Homo sapiens: one gene and its partners. The protein of the gene in region 5 interacts with the protein of the main gene of each other region in a pairwise test. Each region holds a gene or a part of one and is shown on either strand. Other genes may lie near its edges.

The links.
Region 1: the proteins of SPRED1 (region 5) and TRIM74 interact in binary tests that used the Homo sapiens proteins (3 or more experiments, as listed by UniProt).
Region 2: the proteins of SPRED1 (region 5) and MICOS10-NBL1 interact in binary tests that used the Homo sapiens proteins (3 or more experiments, as listed by UniProt).
Region 3: the proteins of SPRED1 (region 5) and CXorf38 interact in binary tests that used the Homo sapiens proteins (3 or more experiments, as listed by UniProt).
Region 4: the proteins of SPRED1 (region 5) and PPTC7 interact in binary tests that used the Homo sapiens proteins (3 or more experiments, as listed by UniProt).
Region 6: the proteins of SPRED1 (region 5) and NR1H3 interact in binary tests that used the Homo sapiens proteins (3 or more experiments, as listed by UniProt).
Region 7: the proteins of SPRED1 (region 5) and ARPP21 interact in binary tests that used the Homo sapiens proteins (3 or more experiments, as listed by UniProt).

Annotation. Positions count from the first base shown.
Region 1 is NC_000007.14:72,962,967-72,966,466, forward strand, and holds part of TRIM74 (tripartite motif-containing protein 74), read right to left. Parts: intron 3,210-3,500; 5' UTR 3,192-3,209; coding exon 2,793-3,191; intron 1-2,792.
Region 2 is NC_000001.11:19,648,979-19,652,478, reverse strand, and holds part of MICOS10-NBL1 (neuroblastoma suppressor of tumorigenicity 1 isoform a precursor), read right to left. Parts: intron 1-3,500. UniProt on the Homo sapiens protein: Possible candidate as a tumor suppressor gene of neuroblastoma. May play an important role in preventing cells from entering the final stage (G1/S) of the transformation process.
Region 3 is NC_000023.11:40,634,062-40,637,561, forward strand, and holds part of CXorf38 (uncharacterized protein CXorf38), read right to left. Parts: intron 3,096-3,500; coding exon 2,946-3,095; intron 2,652-2,945; coding exon 2,472-2,651; intron 1-2,471.
Region 4 is NC_000012.12:110,576,819-110,580,318, forward strand, and holds part of PPTC7 (protein phosphatase PTC7 homolog), read right to left. Parts: intron 1-3,500. UniProt on the Homo sapiens protein: Protein phosphatase that plays an essential role in mitochondrial metabolism and biogenesis. Positively regulates biosynthesis of the ubiquinone, coenzyme Q. Dephosphorylates the ubiquinone biosynthesis protein COQ7 which is likely to lead to its activation.
Region 5 is NC_000015.10:38,346,836-38,350,335, forward strand, and holds part of SPRED1 (sprouty-related, EVH1 domain-containing protein 1), read left to right. Parts: intron 1-2,586; coding exon 2,587-2,688; intron 2,689-3,500. UniProt on the Homo sapiens protein: Tyrosine kinase substrate that inhibits growth-factor-mediated activation of MAP kinase. Negatively regulates hematopoiesis of bone marrow.
Region 6 is NC_000011.10:47,264,496-47,267,995, reverse strand, and holds part of NR1H3 (oxysterols receptor LXR-alpha), read right to left. Parts: intron 84-3,500; coding exon 1-83. UniProt on the Homo sapiens protein: Nuclear receptor that exhibits a ligand-dependent transcriptional activation activity.
Region 7 is NC_000003.12:35,688,025-35,691,524, forward strand, and holds part of ARPP21 (cAMP-regulated phosphoprotein 21), read left to right. Parts: intron 1-1,282; coding exon 1,283-1,361; intron 1,362-2,056; coding exon 2,057-2,116; intron 2,117-2,840; coding exon 2,841-2,981; intron 2,982-3,500. UniProt on the Homo sapiens protein: Isoform 2 may act as a competitive inhibitor of calmodulin-dependent enzymes such as calcineurin in neurons.

The DNA of each region.
Region 1 (3,500 bases), on a different chromosome or scaffold from region 5:
GCTCACACGGGCCTGGGTTTAACCTGGTGAATCCCCACACCTATAAACACCTGAATCCATTCCTGGTGGGCTTGGACACAGCACGGATTTGCGACCTCCCCAAGCTGACATAAATGCACTTCTCCTGGACTGCCCGGGCCCCAAATCTGACCTAGCCTTGGGGGTGCCAACCAGGACTCCTGGACCACCATCTACTCCATGACTTGACCAGAGCCCCCGTCGGTTTATACCCATGCAATGTACAGAATTTTTGGCTTGGATCGTGCCCAAGCACCAGAGAGCTGCAAGGGGCTTTCAGGAAGGGAGTTGGGTAAAGAATCAAGCACTTGCTGGCATAAACGGACAGAGTCCTTGCTCTGGAGAATGAGGCATCAGAACATCTCACAGAGGCCTAAGAACAGCATTCCAATGTCACCCTCCCCAGGCAGACAGACGGGACTCATTCCTTCCCCGTGAGAAGAACTAAGTTATGCAAATCAATGCACCCATCAATCGAGCATCTCAAGATCTCAATAAACAGGAGGCAACGGGAACACCTTAAAGAGGGCAATAAAGGAGTGCAATTTAGTTGTATTCTGTGTTGCAACAGAGAAGAGCCTCGGGATCATCAAAACCCAAATCTGGCCGGGAACAGTGGCTCATGCCTGGAATCCCAGCACTTTGGGAGGCCGAGACGGGAGGATCACTTGAGGCCAGGAGTTTGAGTCCAGCCTGGACAAAATAGTGAGACCCTGTCTCTACCAAAAAAAAAAAAATTAAGCCCAAATCTAAAACAGGGACCCAAGCTGAGCTGCTGGATCCTAACTACAAAGGACAGACAATCTCCCAGCCTGTTCCCTCCCTCCTTCCCATCAACTAATAAAACATAAACTCGGCTTCCTCACCTGCAGTTGGCTTCCACCTTCCATACTCCCCTAAACCTGCTCTTGCCAAGATAATCAGTTCTTACTGCTACATTTAACACTTTTCAGTCCTCAGAGACATTTCACACACGTGATCTCCTCCTTCAGTCTGTCTCTCTGATTTCCGGGAGGCCACACTCAGCCGGTGTTCCTGCTCTGAGGATTCTTTCTATTCCTTTTTCAGGGCTCTCTCTCTCTCAATCCAGATTTTAAGCCTGGTACCCCTTGGGGTCATCATCAGTGTCTTCCCTTATCACTATGTAGACTCTCCTGGGTTGGTCTTCTCCACCAAAGGGGACTTCAGTGACCACCAAGAGGAAGGACCCTCCACACCTCTTGCCCTGAGCCCCACCGCTGTCCTGGTCTGCACACCCCTCAACCCGACTGCACATCCCCAGGCACCTCCCGCTCCACCTGCCCACGCCGGATCCTCCCCTGCGATCACTTCCTCTGTGCAAGGGGGAATTACAGAGCTGGAGTCAACCTCCCCATCCCTCACCCTCCTTGCCACACACAGTTGTCAGGGTTTTTTTCTGTTTGAAATTTGTCTTTGGTCTGCCCCAGGCCTTTGTCCCAGTTCCCACCAACTTAGGTCCTGGCACCTTCATCTCTCACTGTCCTTTTGCCTCACCCTCAAAGCTCCCCTCTGCCAGAGAGATCTGAGCATGTCATCACTGGCTTAAAACACTCCAGCCCCCGCCTTTCTCCCTCATCCTGTGAATAAACTCCAAATCCATTCCCGGGTCACACTGGCCTCTCCATGCCCCAGCCGCAGCTTACCTCGCTGGCCCTATCTCGCCCCCACCCATGCTCCCTCCAGCTTTATGCTGGGATTACAGGAGTGGCCACTGCGCCTGGCCAACCAGGCTAATTTTGAAACTTTTGTAGAGGCAGGGTCTCACTATGTTGCCCAGGCTGGTCTCAAACTCCTGGACTCAAGTGATCCACCCACCTCGGCCTCCCAAAGTGCTGTTATTATAGGCATAAGCCACCCAGTCACGTGTTTTATAACAGGTGTTTTATATATATAACACCCAGTCAGGTATTATTATTACTCATCTTAAAGAATGATCTGCTAGGTTTGGTGATGGCCTATAAAGGCAGGAATTCACTGATTCAGCATTTTGGACATTTACAATGTGCCAGGCATGGCTCCAGGCACTGAAATACACCAGGGGACAAAATGAAGTCCCCACTCTCATGCACCAGAGAGTGCAAACAGGGGAGTGTCCAGACACAAACAAGGGGCGTAGGGCAGTGGTGCATGCCTATAATTCCAGCACTTTGGGAGGCCCAGGCAGGAAGATCGTTGGAGGCCAAGGAATTCAACACCAGCCTGGGCAACATAACCAGACCCCATTTCTACAAAATATAAAAAATGAGCTGGGCATGGTGGTGTGCACCTGTAGTCCCAGCTGCTCGGGAGGCTGAGGTGGGTGGATTGCTTGAGCCTAGGAGTTGGAGGCTGCAGTGAGCCATGATCACACCACTGCACTCCAGCCTGGGCAACAGAGTGAGACGCTGTCTCCAAAAAGAAAGAAGAAAAAGAAAGGGGGGGCGGGCGAGGGAGGGGGAGAGAGAGAGAGAGGAAGGGAAGGGGGCGGGAGAGAGAGAAAGAAAAAAAGAAAAAGAAACAAACCAGAACTGCAAACAAAAAACAGGAAGGGGTGAGCACGTGACACCAGGGAGCTCCCATCCTGTGCGTGTAGCTTCAATCCCCAGCACCTGGGTTTAGCTGCCGCTCAAACACTAAGGAATGAATGCGCCAGGGCAGGGCTGCAGGGAAATCGAGGATAGCTGGATCCGTTTTGGTGCCAGTTGATAGCGCCAGAGAGCACAGGATCCAGTCCCCGCGGGCCCCGCCGCCCCGCCTGCACCCTCACTCCCCACCTTCATGCGGCTGCAGACGGTGGAGACGGGCGTGACCGGGTGGTGTTGGTGGGAGCCCAGCAGACCGCAGAGGCCACAGATGAGCTCCTGGTCCTTCTCGCAGAAAAGGCTGAGCGGGTTCCGGTGGTGCACGCAGACCTTGGGCTCCGGGTCCCCAGGGAGCCTCAGGGCTTCGATCACCCAGGCCAGGGAGACGTTGGGCAAGGAGCTGCTGCCGTCCACCACCTGCCAGCACATGGGGCAGCGCACCTTGGTGTCCAGGTGGTAGGACAGGGAAACCAGGCAGCCCTTGCAGTAGGAGTGGCCGCACTGTAGCATTAGGGACTCCTTGAAGACCTCCAGGCAGATGGGACACTGAAGCCAGTCCTCCAGCTCCAGCAGGCTCACCTGCCAAGCCATCCACACTCACTGCCCGGGCTGAAACACAGGCATCCGACCTCAGTCCTGTCCACTCCCCTCCCCCTGTCCAGCACTCACCCACCACCCTCAACCCTAAGGAGCACCAGAATTTTATAAGAAACACTTTGAGTCCTGGATCCCAGTCCTAACCCACATGACCTTGGGCCTCAGTTTCCACAGCTGTAAAACAAAAGACTGCAGTGAAAAAACTGGTCCCTTGAAGATACGTGTGTGTGTGTGTGTGTGTGTGTGTGTGTGTGTGTCTACATTTTTTACTCAAATTTGGAGACAAGCATGAAAGGGGCCATC
Region 2 (3,500 bases), on a different chromosome or scaffold from region 5:
GGACAGGCTGCCCCCCCGCCGCCTCCCAAATGAGTTCCTGTCACGATCCAGGCCCTCACCCACGCATTTCCGGTCTTGCTGACAAAGCCCATGTTTCCAGTACAACCACATCCTAACAAAATAGAATGGATTCCTCCCTAACTGGCAACCCAGTGAATTTTTCAACAAGCCTGGCATGCAGGCGGCTTCCTCACTCCTGAGTCAGGTCTGCCCACAGCACACCTGAAGGGTCCTGGAGGTCCATTTAAGGCCAGGGCTCCCTGGGCTGGACTGGCCCCCTAGACCCTTAGGAGAGGTCCAGGGACTCTTGTCCTCCTATATCTGACCCCATCTTGCTTCCTCAGGAACAACAGGTCACAGGGGGCCAGGGAGGTGACTGGGGCAGAAAGTGATGTGGATTTGGAATTGAGACTGGGGTTGTAATGCAAGTAGCCTGGGCCAGGCATGGTGGCTCACACCTGTAATTCTAGCACTTTGGGAGGCCAAAGCGGGAGGACCACTTGAACTCAGGAGTCCAAGACTAGCCTGGGAAGCAAAGTGAGACTTGGTCTCAAAATAAAATAAAATAAAATAAAATATTTTTTTATTATCACACTGTGATAACACATTTTTTATTATCACATTATGCATTGTGATGTGCACCTGTAGTCCAGCTATGTGGGAAGCTGAGGCGGGAGGATGGCTTGAGACCAGGCTTGGGGCTGCAGTGAGCCATGATTGCGTCCCTGCACTCCAGACTGGGTGACAGAGCAAGAACCTGTCAAAAAGGAAAGGGAAAAAAAGGACAGGAAAGAAAAGAGGGAGGGAGGCAGGGAGGGAGGGACAGAGGGAGGGAGGGAGGCTGGGGTGAGCACTTGGAGTTGGAATTAGGAGAGGTCACAACCGAGGCTGTGGGTCACAACTAGGCTGAAGCCGAGTGTTGAGACTGGGGTTGAGGCTAATGGAGGCTTACTGGGAAATGGGGTAATGGTGACTTTTTGGAAGAGGTTGCAGGCCCAGAGATCAGGAACTGGTTATCAGCGTCAGGCTGGGACAGAGGTTAGGAGAAATGAGACGAACTGAGGCAGAAGGCCCCCTCCTTACCTTCCACCCTTTCCAGTGCACAGCTGAGGTTATCACAGGGCCAGCTGTGTCCACAGAGGGGTGCTATAACCCAACCCACCAGGCCCTAGCAGGCTCTCCGCAGGGCGCTGGGGCCTCGGCCTCCCCGGGCCAGCAGCGTGGAGCTCCAGCATTTTCCCCGGGCTCCCCCTGGAAGCGTGGACCCTGGAGTCCCCAGTGTTTGAACTGCAGCCCCTCCCCTTAGGAGCTGTGTGACTCCAGAAATAAGTTCACTCCTCAGAAACTGCCTTTCTCAACCCTAACATGGGAAGCATTGCACCTTCCCTGGAGAAGAATTGGGAGGAGTAAATGAAGGTACTCAGCACCTAGGAGGCACCCACTAAGGTCAGCTCTCTTCCCCCCAGGGGATCATGGGAAAGGCTGGGCCAGCATCAGAGCCAAGGCTGGGCTGGAACAGGAGGCAGCGAGGATGCCAGATGAAGTCTCTCCCACACACGGCTGTCATCCAGACACACCTGCCTCCGCCCACCCTCCTGCCCAGCCCCGAAGAGCCCAGGCTGCCCCCACCGGTGGGGTGGGCTCTTGGCTAGCAGGTTTTCTTTTTTTGTTGGTTTATGCTTTTTTGTTGGTTTACGCTTTTTTGTTTTTTCAAGCAGCAACTAATCTATTTTTTTTTTTTAAGCAGCGATCGTACTTTCCTTCCTGAGCCTTGAGAGCCTCACCCAGATTCTCAACCCTTCCTCCCGCCCTGAAGGTCACACAGCAAGTCATGGGACTCCCCAAAAGCGAGGGCGGGAAGGAAAGTTGGAGATCTCCCAGCCAAGTCTCCCTGCTCTGCAAGGGGCTGTCCCAAGGCCCCCAGCAAGTCAGGCAAAGCAATGCCCTGCCCTGGGCCGTTCAGGGCCCTGCAGTTCCACACTCACTCACTTCTAGGAGGGTGGGGAGAAAGGCAAGGGTGAGGGCAGGGAGCTGGGGGCACAGACCCTATGCCCACTCAGACACTCCCCTGAGGGGAGGTCCAGGGATGTGGGTAAATAGGGGGCAGTTGTTTTGAGTTGGCACAGTCAGAGATGGCTCTCAGGAGGGAAGCAGAGGTTCTGAATTCTGAACTAAATATAAGAGCGCAACTATAGTCATGCGTCAGTTAGCCATGGGGATGCACTCTGAGAAATGTGCCATTAGGTGATAGAGTGAACTCAAACCTGAATAGTCTAGGCTATTACAAACCTAGGCTATATGGCATAGCCCATTGCTCCTAGGCTACAAATCTGGACCACATGTGACTGTACTAAATACTGTAGGTCACTGTAACACACACGGAGGCTGAGGCAGGAGAATGGCGTGAACCCGGGAGGCGGAGCTTGCAGTGAGCCGAGATCACGCCACTGCACTCCAGCCTGGGCGACAAAGCGAGACTCTGTCTCAAAGAAAAGAAAAGAAAAGAAAACGTAAAGTAGGCTAAGCATGGTGGCTCACACCTGTAATCCCAGCACTTTGGGAGGCCAAGGTGAGAGAATTGCTTGAGCTCAGGAATTCAAGACCAGCCTGGGCAACATAAGACGATCCCATCTCTACAAAAATTTAAAAACTAGCCAGGTGTGGTGGTGCATGCCTGTGGTCCCAGCTACTTGGGAGGCTGAGGTGAGAGGATCACTCGGTCCTGGGAGGTTGAGGCTGCAGTGAGCCAGGATCATGCCACTACACAATCATGAAAGAAAGAAAAGGTGTAGTAAAAATACAGTATTATAATTCTATGGGAGGCCAGGCGCAGTGGCTCACGCCTGTAATCCCAGCATTTTGGGAGATCGAGGTGGCAGATCACTTGAGGTCAGGAGTTCGAGACCAGCCTGGCCAACATGGCGAAACCCCGTCTCTACTAAAAATACAAAAACTAGCCGGGTGTGGTGGCACATGCCTGTAGTCCCAGCTACTCAGGAGGCTGAGGCAGGAGAATCACTTGAACCCGGGAGGCAGAGGTTGCAGTGAGCCAAGATTGCACCACTGCACTCCAGCCTGGGGGACAGAGCGAGACTTCATCTCAAAATAATAATAATAATAATAATAATAATTTTATGGCAGCACCATTGTGTACGTGGTTCATCATTGTGTGGTGTGTGACTGGATATTAATTTATTCTGTCCTATGATAACTGCCTGATCCTATTCTTTCCCCCATTTTTAGATGAAGAAACTGAGGCACAGAGAGGCCAAGAAATCTGCTTGGGCTTACACTGTTAGTAAACAGGAGAACCGGGATTTGAACCTGGAGGGTAGCAGGTTAACCCCCAGCTACCCTTGCAGGTCAAAAGGTTCACCGAAGAGAAAGAAGCAAGAAACGATGGAATCTGGAGTCAGGATGAGGCCTGGAGCTCCCACCACTGCCCCAGCCGACTGCGCCTCTCATTCCTGTTAACACCCTAGCGTTCAGCCACTGCCTGG
Region 3 (3,500 bases), on a different chromosome or scaffold from region 5:
GCCCACTTTTTCTAATGTGCTATACCTTTAAGGGTCACCAAACGAATAGAAAATTGTGGAGATGGTGAGCTCTCTGTGGCACTCCATGATGTGTTTGCAGGAGCTGTCACACTGAATTACCACCATCAATCATTTTTCTCAACTTAGCTTTCTAACCCTACCCCTACATTTTTTGGCTGGTTGGTCTGTTTAAGAGATGGGGTCTCCCTACATTGCCCAGGCTGGTCCCAAACTCCTGGGCTCAAGTGATCCTCTCACCTTGGCCTCTGAAAGTGCCGGGATTACAGGCAAGAGCCACTGCACCTCGCCTTCACCCCTACTGTTTTAACAAAAACAAGAAACAGGTCTTGATAACATTTATAACAAAAGTCCTGGGGTCATAATATAATCACTGTATTTCCTGATCCCGGGATGCACACTTTTTCCTATTGTAACGTCTCAAATGAGAATGCATCTTACCATTGATAGTGTCTTGTAATAAACTGGCAGCATTATTTTTTCTTTCTTAGAAGTAACTGAAATAATGGTATGTTTTACAATTGACAGCATTTTACATTCATTGAAATCTGGTCCTAACAAATCCTCTGACTTTGGCAACTAACCCTAAAGAAGATGGAAAATCATATAGGGTACTGAACTTTCTGAAGACGTCAAATTTCATATATGTGGAAACCTGACCTCCAACTTTTTTGAGGTAACATGCCAATCAATCCTCACATTTTGACCAACTGAAATATTATGAGAAATGCCATGGTCTGCTGAAGAGAAAGCATGAAAAATGAGAATTTATCAACTCCACCTAGAGACTCCACCCAGAAGACAAGCCAATTAATCCCTATTTCCTTTCTGTAAAACAGATAATGGGGGTTCAAAACGTACAGCTGCCAGCTCCTCATTATATAAGATCTGCAGCACAGCAGGCGGGAAGCCACAGGATCAGAAGGGGGAGACCTGCGGGCCAGCCCTCAGACCCAGTGCAAGCTCCTTGGGGCCCTTGCCTCACATGCAAAGCAGGGGATATAAGATGACTGCCAGGTTCCCTTCCAGCTCTCAACTGACACAAAATCCTGGCTCTAGCTTCTGAAAACAGCAGCAGAAAGAAAACTGGGGCTCTAATGGCATTATAAAATAAAGACAGAGGAACTCAAACACATGGATTTAGAAAAGAGAAGATAAACATTCTAATACATCATTTTAAATACCTATGGTGTACCATGGTGGGCACACCCAAAAAACCAGGGGTACCAAGCCCTTGTGCTAAAGGGGCTCACCATGCTGAATAAAGCACCTGGATCAAAGCTGGAATGGTTAATACAGGCATAGTTATCTGCAAGGAGCACAGCTCCGTGAATTTGCATTTAATAAACTCTCCCTATGTTTAATGAGGTAACCAGCAAAACTACTTTCCTTGGACAAGGAGGAATGGAGAGGTGAAATGATTTTTCCAATATCTCCTGGTGATCTAGAAGTCTAATCCAGCCAGTGCTGAAATATTTCTGAACCTTACTGGAATATAATTCTACTACTGTTAATTTCTTTTATACCTTGCATGTGACAAAGGAGATTTGTTTCTCCTGTACTTGGGAGTTTAGACCATCATTAGTCTGCAGGTCCTAAACTAGAAACATTGATAATCCTTTAAACATTCCTCTCCCCACCTTCTCCACCCTTTTCCAGCCCCATGCCATGCTCCAAGTAATCTCCCTGGCCACCAATATCCATCGGTTCTGCTCAGGCACTGCCTCCAGAATCCAGTTCCTCCACAGCCCCTAGTTTCTGTTCTCTCTCACCTTCACACGACTGCAAGAGCCTTCTGGGTAATTGCTAGCCACTCATCCAACCTCCAACTACCACAAGAGTTAACTTTCTAAAAGCTATATCTGATCCTATCTCCCTTTCTTGACTGCTTTTTGGGAATGAAGCCCAAACCCCGTGGCATGGCCTAGAAAACCTTTTGGCATGTGGCTCCAGCCCACTTTACCATCCACAAACCTGGCCATAGCTCGTGTGCTCACCTGTTCTTGCCCAGGCTCAGACTATCCTTTCCTGCTTTTGCAAGTACTGTGCCCTCTGCCAAGAAGAATCTTTTTCTCTTGCCAATTTGTCAGACTCTTATTTGATTCTGTGAGCCACAGCTCAACAGCATCTTCTTGGCAAAATCTTTTTTGGCAATCCACCTGACCAGCAGAGAATGTCTAGAGCATTTTTTTCAGAATTCTATTGTAGCCTTTATCACATTTTTCCACTTTGTGGCACAGATTAGGCATTCAAATGTTTGCTGATGTGAAAGTGAAAATATTTGTTAAGAGGTAATATTACTCTGTGCCAAAAGCATATTCACACTTCTGGAAATTATTTAACTTATAAATCAAAAACACAATTAATTATTTGTTAAGATGAGCTACTCTTCCTCCCCAGAATCTTTCTTTGTGTTGTTAACTCACACAGAGCCTATAACACTTTTCTTTTACCTCTTCAGGCAACACCTCTTGTTCTTCTGCTTGAAGATATATCTCTTGAAGTTTCTCCTTTAGTAACTGCATTTCTATTTCATTGACTTGGCTCTCACTCAGGTAAGTTCCCATTTCACATTCACACCCATCTCGCTGATCTTCCTCGGGGATGTGAACAGCCCAGTCAGACGTCAACAGCTGAGGGATTGCCACACAAATATATGAACTGATTTCATGAAGAAGGCATTCCACTGAATTACTCAAATAATTTATAATTAAACACAATGAACTGGATCCATATTAATAGTGCACTGTGACCACAGAAAAGCTTCTCAGCCCAGCATAATTACAGATTTCATATTGGCATTCTTTCCCCTGCTTACATTCTAACACTTAGGTTAAATCTAATAAACTTCAAATTCTAAATGTGTGGCTGTTGTTGTTTTCTCTCTCTTCATTCTGTATGCCAGAACTATTAAACATGATTTTTACCTGTTCTATTCTGGAGTATACTGCCACAATCTCTGGGATGTTCTTGAATTCATTCAGAAAATTTTGGATCTTCATCTGAAAATCTCGAAGCCACGTAGAAGATACTTTCATCTCTGAAGAGTGCATGATCTCATTACGACATTTAATTACCTGCAGAAAGACAAAAAGATAAAAGGCTTCAAAATCAAACAATGGGGTAAACTGAGATCTTTCACTCCAAAGAAAAAATCATAGAGAGGCTTTGTTAATTATAAAATCAACAAGAGCAGTCTTCAGATGAGAAGGACTGGAACTTTCTTGGGATCATGGGCATAATCTGGCATGTACCTGTATCAGAGTGGAGGACACTTCAGCCCTCCAGCCCCGCAAGTTGGATCCACATTTAGTTTCATCCTGTCTAGAGGGCAGACACCAAGAAGTGAAGGTCTCCTTTTGCCTTCAAAGGTCAGGCAGGTAGCCTGAGGGAAGCTGGCCATGTGTAATGGTAAGGAGTCATCTCCCTACTAAAAGACTGGTTCAGGGCAAACTGGGGAGCAGAGGCCCTATCTCAAGGGG
Region 4 (3,500 bases), on a different chromosome or scaffold from region 5:
CACTTTAAAAGGATACATGCTATGGAATGTGAATTATACATATCAGTTTTTAAAAATTCACTCAAGGGGCTGGGCACGTGGTTCACGCCTGTAATCCCAGCACTTTGGGAGGCCAAGGCAGGTGGATCACCTGAGGTCAGGAGTTCGAGACTAGCCTGGCCAACATGGTGAAACCCCGTCTCTACTAAAAATATAAAAATTGGCCAGGTGTAATGGTGGGTGCCTGTAATCCCAGCTACTTGGGAGGCTGAGGCAGAAGAACTGTTTGAACCCAGGAGGCAGAGGTTGCAGTGAGCCAAGATCGCGCCACTGCTCTCCAGCCTGGGCACAAGGGCGAGACTCTGTCTCAAAAAAAAAAAAAAAAAAAAAATTCACTCAGGGTCATATTTGCTATCAACAGGTAGATGATGCTGGAATCTGACTTTAAGAAAATTATGGCATGTCCTGCACATGTATCCTGGAATTTAAAAAAAGTAAAATTAAAAAAAAAAAGAAAAAAAAATTATGGTAATATAATGAGAGTGGTGTCCTGACATGGCTTGAAATCTAGCTGAGGAAAATTCCAACAAGGACTTCTTGAAAGACTGAAGTCAGTGGGTGCACACACACACTCTGAAGGTGACTACTTTTTTAAAAGGACAACTCACTTTCAGAATAGAGGTTCTATAAGTACATTAAAATGATCATGACTGTTTGAAAACACCAAATTCTACCTCATCCATTCACTTCCTAAATATAATTTAGATCTTAATTTTGTTCATATGATCTTTACACCTCAAGACAACTACTTTTAAGACTGACATTACTCACAAAAACACTTCAAAATCCTGACCACGATCAAAATCAGATCCAAAGGCTGGGATATGAAATTATTTTAATTTCACTTTTAGGTTTCAAGTTTAAGCTTAAATAAACATCCCACAGTTTCATAATAAATACTTTACAACTCAATATTCAGAGGTCAAAATTTATATGGCACAGACCAGGCTGCCATTTTTAAAATAAGTGGTTTCTCTAAACTGTGGTTTAGCATGCAGAGGAGTTTTTGTTGCACATCAGTTATGAGTCAGAGTGAATAAAGAAGTTATAAACACACACACACACACACCCAGGAAAAGCATTCGAAGCACAAAAGTATCAGGAGACTGACTGGTTTTTAATTCACATATATCATCAAGAAAACTTGACCAGTGGTCTAACGGGGACAGGACTGGGAAAGGGAGTCTCAGATGAGAGACTGAGATAGGTGTCAGCCTCAGTTCCACCAATAACTAGTAGAGTAACCTTGGGGAAGTCATCTGACTCTCTGGAGGCCTGTTTTCTCATCAGTGAGGTGAAAAAAACTAGACTCCAAGGTTTCTAAGTGTTACAATTCTCAACAGTCTTTGATTCTATTGTTAAGTAGCATAAGGCTGTGGGAAGCCCAGGTATTACAACATGCAGTTCTCATATTTTTGTGCACCTAGGAAGCCATGCCACGTAGAGTAATAAGAGAACTCAGAATTAGCCACAGGGAAGAAGGAACAAGAAAAGTGTACACGGCTCCCGCTAGTACTGGTTTACTCCTGTTGGACCTAGTAAAGAGAAAGCACCTTTGACAATTTTCTAGAGAATGATAGGAGTGGTTCCTATGTCTCACCACACCCAACATAGTCAGTTTTTCCGAAACGAAATACAGTGGGGACTATACAAAATGTTGTGAAGCACCAAGCACTATTAGTCACTGCATGACTAATAGGACAGATCAATTTTAAATTAAAGAAACAAAAGAGATTTCTCTTTCTCATATAAAAAGAAAGAAACAGCTTTCATTCCAGTCAAGGAGTCCTAGATGACCACAGTGAATAATCTGTTACACGGATACTCAGTAATAAATATGGTGTCAATTCAAAGAAAATTAATTATCTACAGAACCAAAAGGTTCAAAAGCACTTAAGTTCAACGTAACGTTATTACTCAACATAGCCTTTTAATGTAATTCAGGTTGTAACTCCAACCTCTAGAGTTGACAGCAGTATTAAAGAGTCATTCAAAGTCATCACCTTAGCCAGACACTGTGGCTCACACCTGTAATCCTAGCACTTTGGGAGGCTGAGGCAGGTGGATGACATGAGGTCAGGAGTTCGACACCAGCCTAGGCAACGTGGCGAAACCTCATCTCTACTAAAAAAATACAAACAATTAGCCGGGTGAGGTGGCACATGCCTGTAGTCCCAGCTACTCGGAAGGCTGAGGCACAAGAATCGCTTGAAGCTGGGAGGCAGAGGTTGCAGCGAGCCAAAATCGTGCCACTGCACTCCAGCCTGGGTGGCAGAGCAAGACTCTATCTCAAAAAAAAAAAAAAGTCATCACCTTTTACGGTATCAACTAAATAGAAGTCACCATCATATGAACTGGTTCAGGACAGCCAAGGATCAAATGAGGCCAACTCATGAAGTTATTTCAGGTGGCTTCCAAGACTGCCGTCCGGAAGAGCTCCTCCACAACAGGACAGTCCTGGAGAACCTGTCCTTCACTGCCCCTATCCCCCACCATTTGCATATGTGCATGCTTGATCTTTGTCAAACATGGCTAACAACCACCTTTTGGTCACATCAGCTACCAGTATCTGACTGTGTCTGCTGGCATTCCCTTCAAGGGTACAGAGCTGGGGTTCTTGATCTGATTCCTATGCATGGACCTCCAGGTGGTATCAGAGGAGTCATGGAGTCAGCAAAGTTCCTAAGAGCCCATGCAAAATTTTATCTCTGTGCACAGGGTCCTGATCCTCAGGGGTTGTGAATCAAGGAAAGCTAAAAACCACTGGTTTAGTGCTACATACAAAACAGGAATCTACTGAAGGTGCCCGTGACACCTGTCATTTGAGGTGCAGAACAAAGGGTGCCATCTATTCAAAGCAAAAGTAAAATATGGGCTGGGCGCGGTGGTTCATGCCTGTAATCCCAGCAGTTTGGGAGGCCGAGGCTGGTGGATCACCTGGGGTTAGGAGTTCGAGTACAGCCTGGCCAACATGATGAAACCCCGTTTGTACTAAAAATACAAAAATTAGCCGGGCGTGATGGCGCGCGCCTGTAATCCCAGCTACTCAGGTGGCTGAGGCAGGGGAATCACTTAAACCCGGGAGGCGGAGGTTGCAGTGAGCCGAGATGGCGCCATTGCACTCCAGCCTGGGCAACAAGAGCGAAACTCCATACCCGCACCCCCCACCCACCAAAAAAAAAAAAGAAAAGAACAAAAGAAAATGTGATATGATGGTCAGAAGCTGTAGTCACTAAGGGTCAGATCGTCCATTCCCTTTATCCCCTAGTCCAGATAAACCAAAGGAGACTCAAGAGAGACTCTGCCCAAGACCACAAATCACAGAGCTACTAAGTGGCAAAGCTGAGCATCAAAGTTCACTGGATTTCCACCAGGATGTCAGGGCATGAAATTATGTTTATACTTTTTTAGAATGGGTTTGACCAAAATCCCCCCAATTCTTGTAAATATCCCACTCCATT
Region 5 (3,500 bases):
CCTACAGGGGATATGTATTGAGTATTTGAAAGACTTCGGAAATAACTGTGATTGTTCCTTTACAAATGGATTTTAACTGCATGCTTTCATATGGCCTTGTTACTAGGTAATCAAATGTTCTGTGTTACTTCCCTGTATATTCTGGATTCAGATCTTTCTGAGTTTTATTTGTGGCTAGTATCTCCTAGTTGGTGATTATTTTTCACTCTTTGTGGTGTTTTGGTGAGCAGACATTATAAATTTTAATGCAGTTGAATTTATCATTTCTCATTATTTTTACAGACTCTTCCCTATCCTCATCTTAAAGATTTTCTTCCTAATCTAAAAGTTTTAAAGTTTTGTCTTTAATCCACTTTAATTTGATTTCTCTTCTATGGTAGGGACCAAATTTTATTTTTTCCACATAGGTTACTAATTGTCCCCGCACTGTTTATTGGAGCCTTTCCCCGCACTGATATGCAGTACCATATCTGACACATCAATTCTCTATATATGTTTGAGTCTGTTTCTGATGTCTCTAATCTAAATTAGTGTCACATTGTCATCTTTACTGTAGAAATGCTGTAGCTCTATAATAACTTAATATTTGTAGAGAAAGTGCCTAACTTTGTTTTCCCGCTTGGATCTTTTTTTTTTTTTTTTTTTTTTTTCAATTTGGCTGTTTGCCCTTTTAAAATATTTAGAATCAGCTTGTCAAATCTGATGAAGAATCCTTTTGTGGTTTATATTTGAATTGCGCTGAATGTGTGTGTTAGTTTAGGGGATAATTTATCATCTTATTCGTGAATATGATATATACCTCTGTTTAGCTCTTCTTCTGTATCTTTACATAAAACTTTGTATTTTCTTTGTGAAAAGATAATACATATTTTATAGGATTATTTCTTTGTACCATTTTTGTTGTTCTATTATAAATGGAATCCTTTTAAAATTTTAATTGTGACCAGCTTTGAAGAAGCATCTCTTATGACTTTTTCAGCTGATAAATTTTCCTGAAGATTATAGCAAAAGTACCAAATTTTGAGGGTATTAAAAAGCAGAAATTAATTGGGGTGTATCTTATCACATCTGTTTTTAGTAAGTGTGAAAAGGTCAATATTGTCCATTTATTTGTCTTTTCACTTAGAGATTGTGTGAGAGAACTAATATTCATAGACCCTGTTGACTCAGGTAGTTTTCAAAGTGTGTATGTGTTTAAGTGGTGTGTGTGACTTTTTTCTGAGACAGTGGTGAGAAAATTGACATTTTTACTCTTTAGAATAGTTCTTAGAAATGTATATTTAATATACTAGTTGAGGTCATTGTGTTCTATCAGGAAAAAAAATTGTTCTCTCTGCTTCCTTTTGTGTAATGTTCTTCTGTTTTTCTTTTTTTCACTTGACCAAATATCTAGCTTATTCTGTGTTTACTTCAAGTCGCATTTCCTTTCATGCCTTCCCAGACCATTTAATCCATAGTTATTTCCTCTTGTTAATTTCTAAATTCTTACAGATTCTACTTATAAACATAGAATGGCCTCCATATTGTATCATTAAATGCAGAGACCAAGGGCACAGTACAAAGGGTCCTATTTTAAAGATCTGTGTGTGTGTGTGTGTGTGTGTCTGTGTGTGTAAAAATTTTTGGAGGAATGCACTAAAAAATTTTTTTTATGATAGTTAACTTTTAAAACTGGGTCTGAAAGGTCTAAGATGGAAGGAAGAGTTTTACTTCATGTGCTTTTATACTATTTGAAAATTTTGCTATCTGCATGTATTACTATTTATTTTCAGGGTTATAGTGTTTATTAAGTATGTAACAGTAGGAGTTGGCTCAAAATTATCTGGAAAAATAAGAAGTAAACAAGATTGCCAAAATGTTGATGATAAGTGAAGCTAGATAATAGACCCATGGTGATTCATAACATTATTCTCTCCTTTTATGTATATTAGAATTTTTCACCATAAAATTTTAAAAATTAAACATTGATATATTCTAGCTATAATTTAGGTCTGAAATGGGCTTTGCAATTCGAAACACTTGTAAATGTATCAGGACACTAAAGATTCCTATTTTTTTATTGCTATATAATTCACCTACCACAAAATCATCCTTTAAAAAAGTATGTAATTTGGTGGTTTTTATTATATTCACAAGATTGTGCAGCCATCAGCAGTATCAAATTCCATATCACTTCCCAAAAAACCCACACTGATTATCAGTCATTGCCCCTCCTTCCCTATTCCCAGCCCCTGGCAACCATTATTGTGACATGTGTAACTACTTTATTTCTCTTTGTGGTTGAATAATATTCCACTCTATGGATTTACTACATTTTGTTTATCCGTTCATTAGTTGATGAATATTTGGGTTGTTTGTACTTTTTTGACTATGTATTCATTACTTGTTAAAGTTTAAATATGTAAGAAAAGACCTATGGTTTTTGTTTGTGTTTTAGGTGGGGGGAAATGATTCTATTTTTATTCTCAAAACCGTTTTTGAAAAACTTTACTGCTAATAAATTATGAGGTTTTGGAACATACACTGTACAGTTTCATTAAAAGTAAAATTCTTGTGTCATTTAAGTAGAAATTGTTTGTATTTTAGATAACATTTGGTCAGCCAGGCTTGGACATTCAGAGCAGAAGTATGGAATACGTACAGCGGCAAATATCCAAGGAATGTGGAAGCCTAAAGTCCCAAAATAGGGTAAGTAATGTTAGTTTATCTTGTGATATGGAATTTAACTAATTAATAGATAGGTAAAGTTTTCCAGTCTTTCTAATTCTCCATATAGTTGAATTGTACTAGAAAATTTTTCATTGTATAAATTTGCTGCCTATGTGCTTAAACGCTGTTAGTTAAAAACTCTGCAAACTTCTCATTTGAGTCTAAAAGATTGCCAGAGCTGCATTTATTAGATAGGACCAAAAGGAATTATATATTGTTAATTAAATAAACTGTATCTGTCACCCCACCTTTAGCTCAGACCTAGAATTTTCTTAGCCCTAATTCCATGTATCTAGGAAATAGAAGTTTGCCCCAAACTGAGTCAGATGCTTACTTGTAGTAGACTAGTCACTGTGTCCAGGGACTGGAGCTAAAGATACAAATTTGTCTACTTAGAAGCCTGCATTTATGGATGATGTAAGGGGTCAAAAGACTTAATTTTGTTCTTTGGCCTCAAAGAACCAACCTTCCCAGAAGGGTTGTGGAAGTAGGGGTATTTTACGTCATTGTTCAGAGACTTTTTGTGTACCCAAGCTACACACATGTGTGTCTTTGTATTAATTTGCTAGGACTCCCACAACAAAATATTACAGACTGGGTAGCTTCAACAACAGAAATTTATTTTCTCACAATTCTTAGAAGTTCAAGATCAAGGTTGTTGGTAGGTTTGGTTTCTTCTGAGGCCTTTCTTCTTGGCTTGCAGGTAGCTGCCCTCACATGGTCTTTCCTCACTTTGCCCTCACATGCTCTTTCCTCTGCCCGTACATCCCTGGTGTCTTTCTCTGTGTGTC
Region 6 (3,500 bases), on a different chromosome or scaffold from region 5:
GGCAAACTCGGCATCATTGAGTTGCAGCTCATTCATGGCCCTGGAGAACTCGAAGATGGGGTTGATGAATTCCACTTGCAGCCCTGGGGAGGAAGAAGGGAGGCTGACGCAAGCAGCAGGAGCAGCAGGAACTTTCTTCTCTCCTCACCTTAGGGAACTATTAGGAACTCACTAAGAAGTTTACTGAGGCCGGGCACAGTGGCTCACGCCTGTAATCCCAGCACTTTCGGAGGCTGAGGCGGGCGGATCACCTGAAGTCAGGAGTTCGAGAAGAGCCTGGCCAACATGGCGAAACCCCGTCTGTACTAAAAACACAAAAACTAGCCGGGCGTGGTGGCAGGTGCCTGTAATCCCAGCTACTTGGGAGGCTGAGGCAGGAGAATTGCTTGAACACGGGAGGCAGAGGTTGCAGTGACCCAAGATTGCACTACTGCACTCCAGCCTGGGCGATAGAGCGAGATTCCGTCAAAAAAAAAAAAAAGGTCTACAAGGCTTTGCTGTGTAACCTTGAGCAAATGTCTTAACCCCTCTATAAGCCTCATCTGTGAAATGGGAATCATATCTGAACCCTTCTCAGAAAATTGTTGGTATAGTTCAATGACAAAGTATGCAGGGCACTTAGCGCTGTGTCTGGCACACAAGAGGTGCTGAATTAAATAATAATTCTGGTATTCTTGTTTTTTTTCTTTGAGACAGGGTCTTGTTCTATCACCCAGACTGGAGTGCAGTGGCACAATCACAGCTCACTGCAGCCTCGACCTCCCGGGTGCAAGCCATCCTCCTACTTCAGCCTCCCTAGTAGCTGGGACTACAGGTGCATACCATCACAAGTAGCTAATTCTTATATTTTCAGTTGTGACAGGATTTCACCATGTTGCCCAGGCTGGTCTCGAACTCCTGGACTCAAGCAATCCACCCGCCTCGCCCTCCCAAAGTGCTGGGATTACAGGCACCAGACACCATCACCTGCCAATTCTGTCATTAAAATTCTTGAGGGCTCCACATTTCTAGAAATAGAGGCAACTCTTATTTTTGTTTATCAAGAATCGTTTTTCAGCAAGGCACGGCGGTTCATGCCTGTAATCCCAGTATTTTGGGAGGCCGAGGCAGGGGGATCACCTGAGTTCAGGAGTTTGAGACCAGCCTGGCCGACATGGCAAAACCCTGTCTCACTGAAAATACAAAAATTAGCTGGGCGTGGTGGTGCACTCCTGTAATTCCAGCTACTTAGGAGGCTGAGGCAGGAGAATTGCTTGAATCTGGGAGGCGGAGGTTGCAGTAAGCCGAGATCACGCCACTGCACTCCAGCCTGGATGACAGAGCGAAACTCCATCTCAAAAAAAAAAAAAGAAAAAGAAAAAAGGCTGGATGCGGTGGCTTATCCCTATAATCCCAGCACTTTAGGAGGCCGAGGCAGACGGATTGCCTGAGCTCAAGAGTTTGAGACCAGCCTGGGCAACACAGTGAAACCCGGTCTCTACTAAAAATACAAAAATTAACTGGGCATGGTGGCGCACCTGTAGTCCCAGCTACTCGGGAGGCTGAGCAGGCGAATTGCTTGAACCTGGGAGGTGGAGGTTGCAGTGAGCCGAGATTGTTCTACTTGCACTCCAGCCTGGGCGACAGAGCAAGATTCTGGCTCAAAAAAAAAAAAAATCCTTTTTCAGCAGGGCACGGTGGTTCACACCTGTAGTCCCAGCTACTCAAGGAGGATCACTTGAGCCCAGAAGGTCGAGGCTGCATTGAGCCATGATTGATCACACCACTGCATTCAGCCTGGGCGACAGAGCGAGACCCTGTTTCAAAGAAAAAAAAAAGACTTGTTTTTCACTGGCATTGGCCTTACTTATTTGAACACTAGAGATACATTTCATGTATCACATCCTCGAGGGAATATTGCAGTATGGGTGAGGATGTGGATTTTGGTGCCAGACTGCCTCGGGTTGAGTCCTGCCTCTACCACTTACAAGGCAGTGTGACCTTGTGTAAGTTATTTAACCTCTCTGGGCTTTGGTTTTCCCATCTGTAAAATGGGAATAATAATAGTACCTATCTCATAAATATGTGGCATATATGGTAACTACCACATAAGTGTTTGTAAAATAAATAAAAAAATTTTTTTTGAGACAAAGAGTCTTGCTCTGTTGCCAGACTAGAGTGCAGTTGCATGATCTCGGCTCACTGCAAGCTCTGCCTCCCAGGTTCAAGCAATTCTCCTGCCTCAGCCTCTTGAGTAGCTGGGACTACTGGTGCATGTCACCACGCCCAGCTAATTTTTGTATTTTTAGTAGAGACAGGATTTCACCATGTTGGCCAGGATGGTCTCGATCTCTTGACCTCGTGATCTGCCTGCCTCGGCCTCCCAAAGTACTGGGATTACAGGCATGAGCCACCGCGCCTGGTCAATAAATAATACATTTTTCTTGGAAACAGTCTTCCTGCTGAGAAGACTAAAATGCAACAAAACATGAGCTAAAGTAATGATACCTAGAGAATGTCTCTCATACACATTGTCAAAGTCTCTGCACCCTACAGAGTTCCCCAGGCTTTGTCAGATTTCTTTTAGCAACCATCTGCTACACTTTTCCATTCAAGGCTTCTTGGTGAGTCACTTCCTGTACTTTCACCCTGATGTTTATCAAGTGTTGTGTGTTGGTCCATTTAATGGGCAGGCCCCATTTTCTTTTTCTTTTTTCTTTTTTTGAGATGGAGTCTTGCTCTGTCACCCAGGCTGGAGTGCAGTGGCGCGATCTCAGCTCACTGCAACCTCAGCCTTCTGGTTCAAGCAATTCTCCTGCCTCAGCCTCCTGAGTAGCTGGGACCACAGGTGTGCACCACCACGCCCAGCTAATTTTTGTATTTTCAGTAGAGATGGGGTTTTGCCATATGGGCCAGGCTGGTCTCGAACTCCTGACCTCAGGTGATCCGCCTGCCTCGGCCTCCCAAAGTGCTGGGATTTCAGGTGTAAGCCACCACGCCCGGCGGCAAGCCCCATTTTCTAAAGCATTTCTTGGTGAGGTTTTGAGCCCCAAAGTGTGGCAAACAGCCCCCTTTATAGAGAAATTAAGAGGAGGTTCTATAGTTAGCTAATGCACCTCTGAGGGTCTGCTGATGCCCACGGAATGAACACCTCAAATGTGCTCAGTCCATGTCACCAGTTATCTACTGCATGCAGTAAATAGTAGCGGATAGGGAGGGGAGGAGACTTGACAAGCAGAGCTCCTGTTCCTTCTCCCCAAGACCTCACTCATGAAATAAGAAATGCAAGCATGATTACTTCAAAACTGCTTGTATAAATAAATCTATGAATAGGTGCAGATTCAGATAGCATGAGTCTACAAGTGCCAAAGGAATACAAAGATCTTAGAACTGGGCAGGGTTCCACAAGGAGGATATTCTGAAGGAGGGGAGAGCCACGGTTAAGAAGGTCTGAGATAATAACCATCGAGGAAAAAGTGGTTTGGAAGAGGGGAGCAGGGCTGGGCTTTAAAGCTGGATAA
Region 7 (3,500 bases), on a different chromosome or scaffold from region 5:
AAAAATGTGAACTTGATTTTCTTTCTGTTTATAGTGTCATTACTTGTGTTGCTAGACAGGTTATTTTTAGGATCACATATTTCTTTGGATTCACATTTTAATCTTCTGTTTTCAGTGACAAGCTTGTACAAGGAATAAATATAAATCTGCCCTAAATTTAGGTTTCTTGGACCGATTAACTTGGATTGGTGAACAGTAATGATACCAAGTTTGATATCTTAACTCTCATGTTTATCTTAAAAGACAGAGAGTGGATTAGCAATTCTCAGTTCATAAGTGATATGGTCCCCAAAGTACAGATGTATATGTCAACGGAATACATGATTCACATTTTATCTGGCTCAGAATTTAGTCTCTGAACCCATCTACTATCAAGTAATGTTTATTTAAGAAATACCCACTTCTACTTCAATAAATCACTGTGCAAAAAGTCATACATTTACAAACTCAAAACCTACAGTCCAAACTGTCCAAATTTTTGCCATACCTATCATGGTACAAAACAAAACTAAGTTGAAATGAAGAGTACCATGAGTAAACAGGCTTGCAGTAGACTTAAACAAACAAACAAACAAACTGGACAACTGGGAAAGAATAGAGCATCTGGTCAACTGAGAAATGACAACCGCCTCTAACAGTTATGTGTTCTATAACCATACATCTGCTTATAATTGTTGTTTCTGCTGAGGAATATCTAAAATCCAAGGTGTATATGACAGTAAAGAAGTTCAGGTTTCTAAAACAGTTTTAGAAATTAAGCTTTGGACAGCATTAGGATATTTAAAAGTCTTGGGAATATTTAGTGTCCTCCTGTATTTTGTACCGATTAATAGATAGTCTCATAACAGAACATTCATTTTTTTTTTTTTGCCTTCTTTGTTTTAAGAGAAAAAGGGTTCCATGGGATCTCAAACTCTTGAGAGCTCTCTCTGTAGGTGGGAGTTCTGTCATGTGGGGTTTGTGCCCTTGTTATTTACAATGCAGAATGAACACGTGATATTTGACTCCACCTCTCCCCCACACCCAGACTGTGCCCACTTCCCCTCCTATGACATTTGGATCTTTCCATATTCAGGATTTATTGGGTGTTTTCAATCCCGGAATCTAATTTTCATTCTGATGTTATATTGCCAGATTGCTAGTTTTGAAACATGTATTTTTATACCAACAGCTTCACCTAAAATTTATCTGAGCAGGGGGAAACAGGATAGGTTGGGGAAACCTTTTCTACCCCACCTTTCCACCATCATTCCTGACAGCTCCGTCCTGCTATTTGTTTCAGATTGCAGCCAAGAATACACGGATTCTACAGGCATAGACTTACACGAGTTTCTGATTAACACATTAAAGAATAATTCCAGGTAAATTATTAAATGAGCCTCTTATTTTTAGAAGGATCAAATAGAATATTACAATCAAAGTTATTAATCCAACACTTCTAAGAAAGCCATTGTGAAATGCAGATACCTTCCCTGACGTCTTAAACTGTCTCCTGTATTTTTTTTCTACTAATCGTTTGCATGTTTACTTTTTATAGAGAGTCTTAGTAACTGGGTAGTTACCCAATTAATAAATTATACTTTAACAGTTCTGCTTTTCAGATCACAAAGAGATACTGGCTAAGGTGGAAAAATAGCAAATAAAAATTATTGTTGTCAAATAAGCCAATTATGTTTTAATGCAGCTATGTATTCATTTACAGTCAATACTTGGCCTTCGTTTTGTTCCAGTTTCCTATTTATTTGAAATATACTATTTATTTGATGGGTTTTTTGATCCTAGTACTTTGCATGCCATAATTAACATTAAGACTACAAAATTTAGATATTTCAATATACTTAACAAATAAGATAAGGAATACTCTTAAACAATGAAATAAATTGTAATGAATGAAATGAAATAATATGTAAATGGTCAGCATATTCCAAAGAAGAGTTAGGTATAAGTTTGTAGCAGCATACATTTAAGTAATCTTTTCCATACATTTAATTAATTCTTTAGGTTTTTGGAAGTGGAACATACATAAAACCTTTTAAATTTAACATTTATTTTGCAGGGACAGGATGATACTTTTGAAAATGGAGCAGGAAATTATTGATTTCATTGCTGACAACAAGTATGTTAAACTTCAATGCTGGTTAATTTGATCATGTATCCTAGTTTGGTATTGGAGTTAAATTGTCCATTCTGGAAAGACTTAGGGATAGACAAAACATTGTTTAATATGTTCCTTGATTTGTTAAATGGAGACATTATTGGAGTTAGGACTATACGCTGATGAGAATTGTTGCTTGGACCATGTGTGCTTCTGCTTGTTAAATTCCTGACAAAATGGCTATAAACAGTGGGCCACTGATTAGCATAGAGTAGCTGTAACAAGAAGAGACCCTTTTCATTTTTATTATAGTTTTTTAATGGGCTCCAGCTGGCTGCAGTCAGTTATGCCTGGAAATAATTGTGCTGCTTCAGTATAAACCGTGTAATGACACATCTCCATATAGACATCTGCAATCACGTATTATGTCACATCATTTGTCCTGTGCCTGGCCCCGTTGATAAGGTATCATGGACTAAAATACAATACTGTCCAACAGACATTACATTCTCTTTGGCAAGAGAAATGTGCAACTATGAAACAAAGATGTTTATTGTGGCTTAATCAATAAATCTATAATAAGTAGAAAATTTTTCTAGAAATTAGGACATTAAGTGATGCCAGAAATGCAATAGGCTTAGTGGTTTAGATGAAGAAGAAATAGTTTTGTGTGTATACTTGTAAAAAGGTATTATGGGCAAAAAATGAAAATGCTGATTCCACTTTTTCTTGAATTATGTTCTAGTAATCATTATAAAAAGTTCCCTCAGATGTCATCGTATCAGAGGATGCTTGTCCATCGAGTGGCAGCTTATTTTGGATTGGATCACAATGTGGATCAAACAGGAAAATCTGTTATCATCAACAAGACCAGCAGCACCAGAATGTAAGCCCCATCACTGTACTTATTTAGCATTTTCTTTTTCTCCTATGGATTCATTTATAAGATCACAGTATAAAATTCACAGTACATGACATTTAAAATGTGCAGTGTTATTTATCTCTTGCTCTTATCAGAAGTAGTGTGGCATTTATCTGTAGAAGATTATCTGAGAACCAAGAAAGTTTATAAAATTCAGACAATAAAGTGGATTTATTTCCTGCTCTTTTACATAGCTCCTGAAACATAATTTTCTTTCTTCCATCAGTACTCTATGAAATTACATACAAAGCTGTGAAAAATTTTGTCAAAATATAACTTAAATTAAAAACAATAGATATTTTTAAATGACCATGACATACACAGAATAATTGTTATTTTCTTTCTTCTTTCTTCTGCTTTTTTAGACATCTATCTTATTGTAGTTTCTGGAGTAATAAAAAGCTCCGAACCTAGAGGCAGAAATCCTGCCTCTAAAACCCAATTCTACTTACTAGTTGTGTGACTTGGAGCAAGTCATTTAAA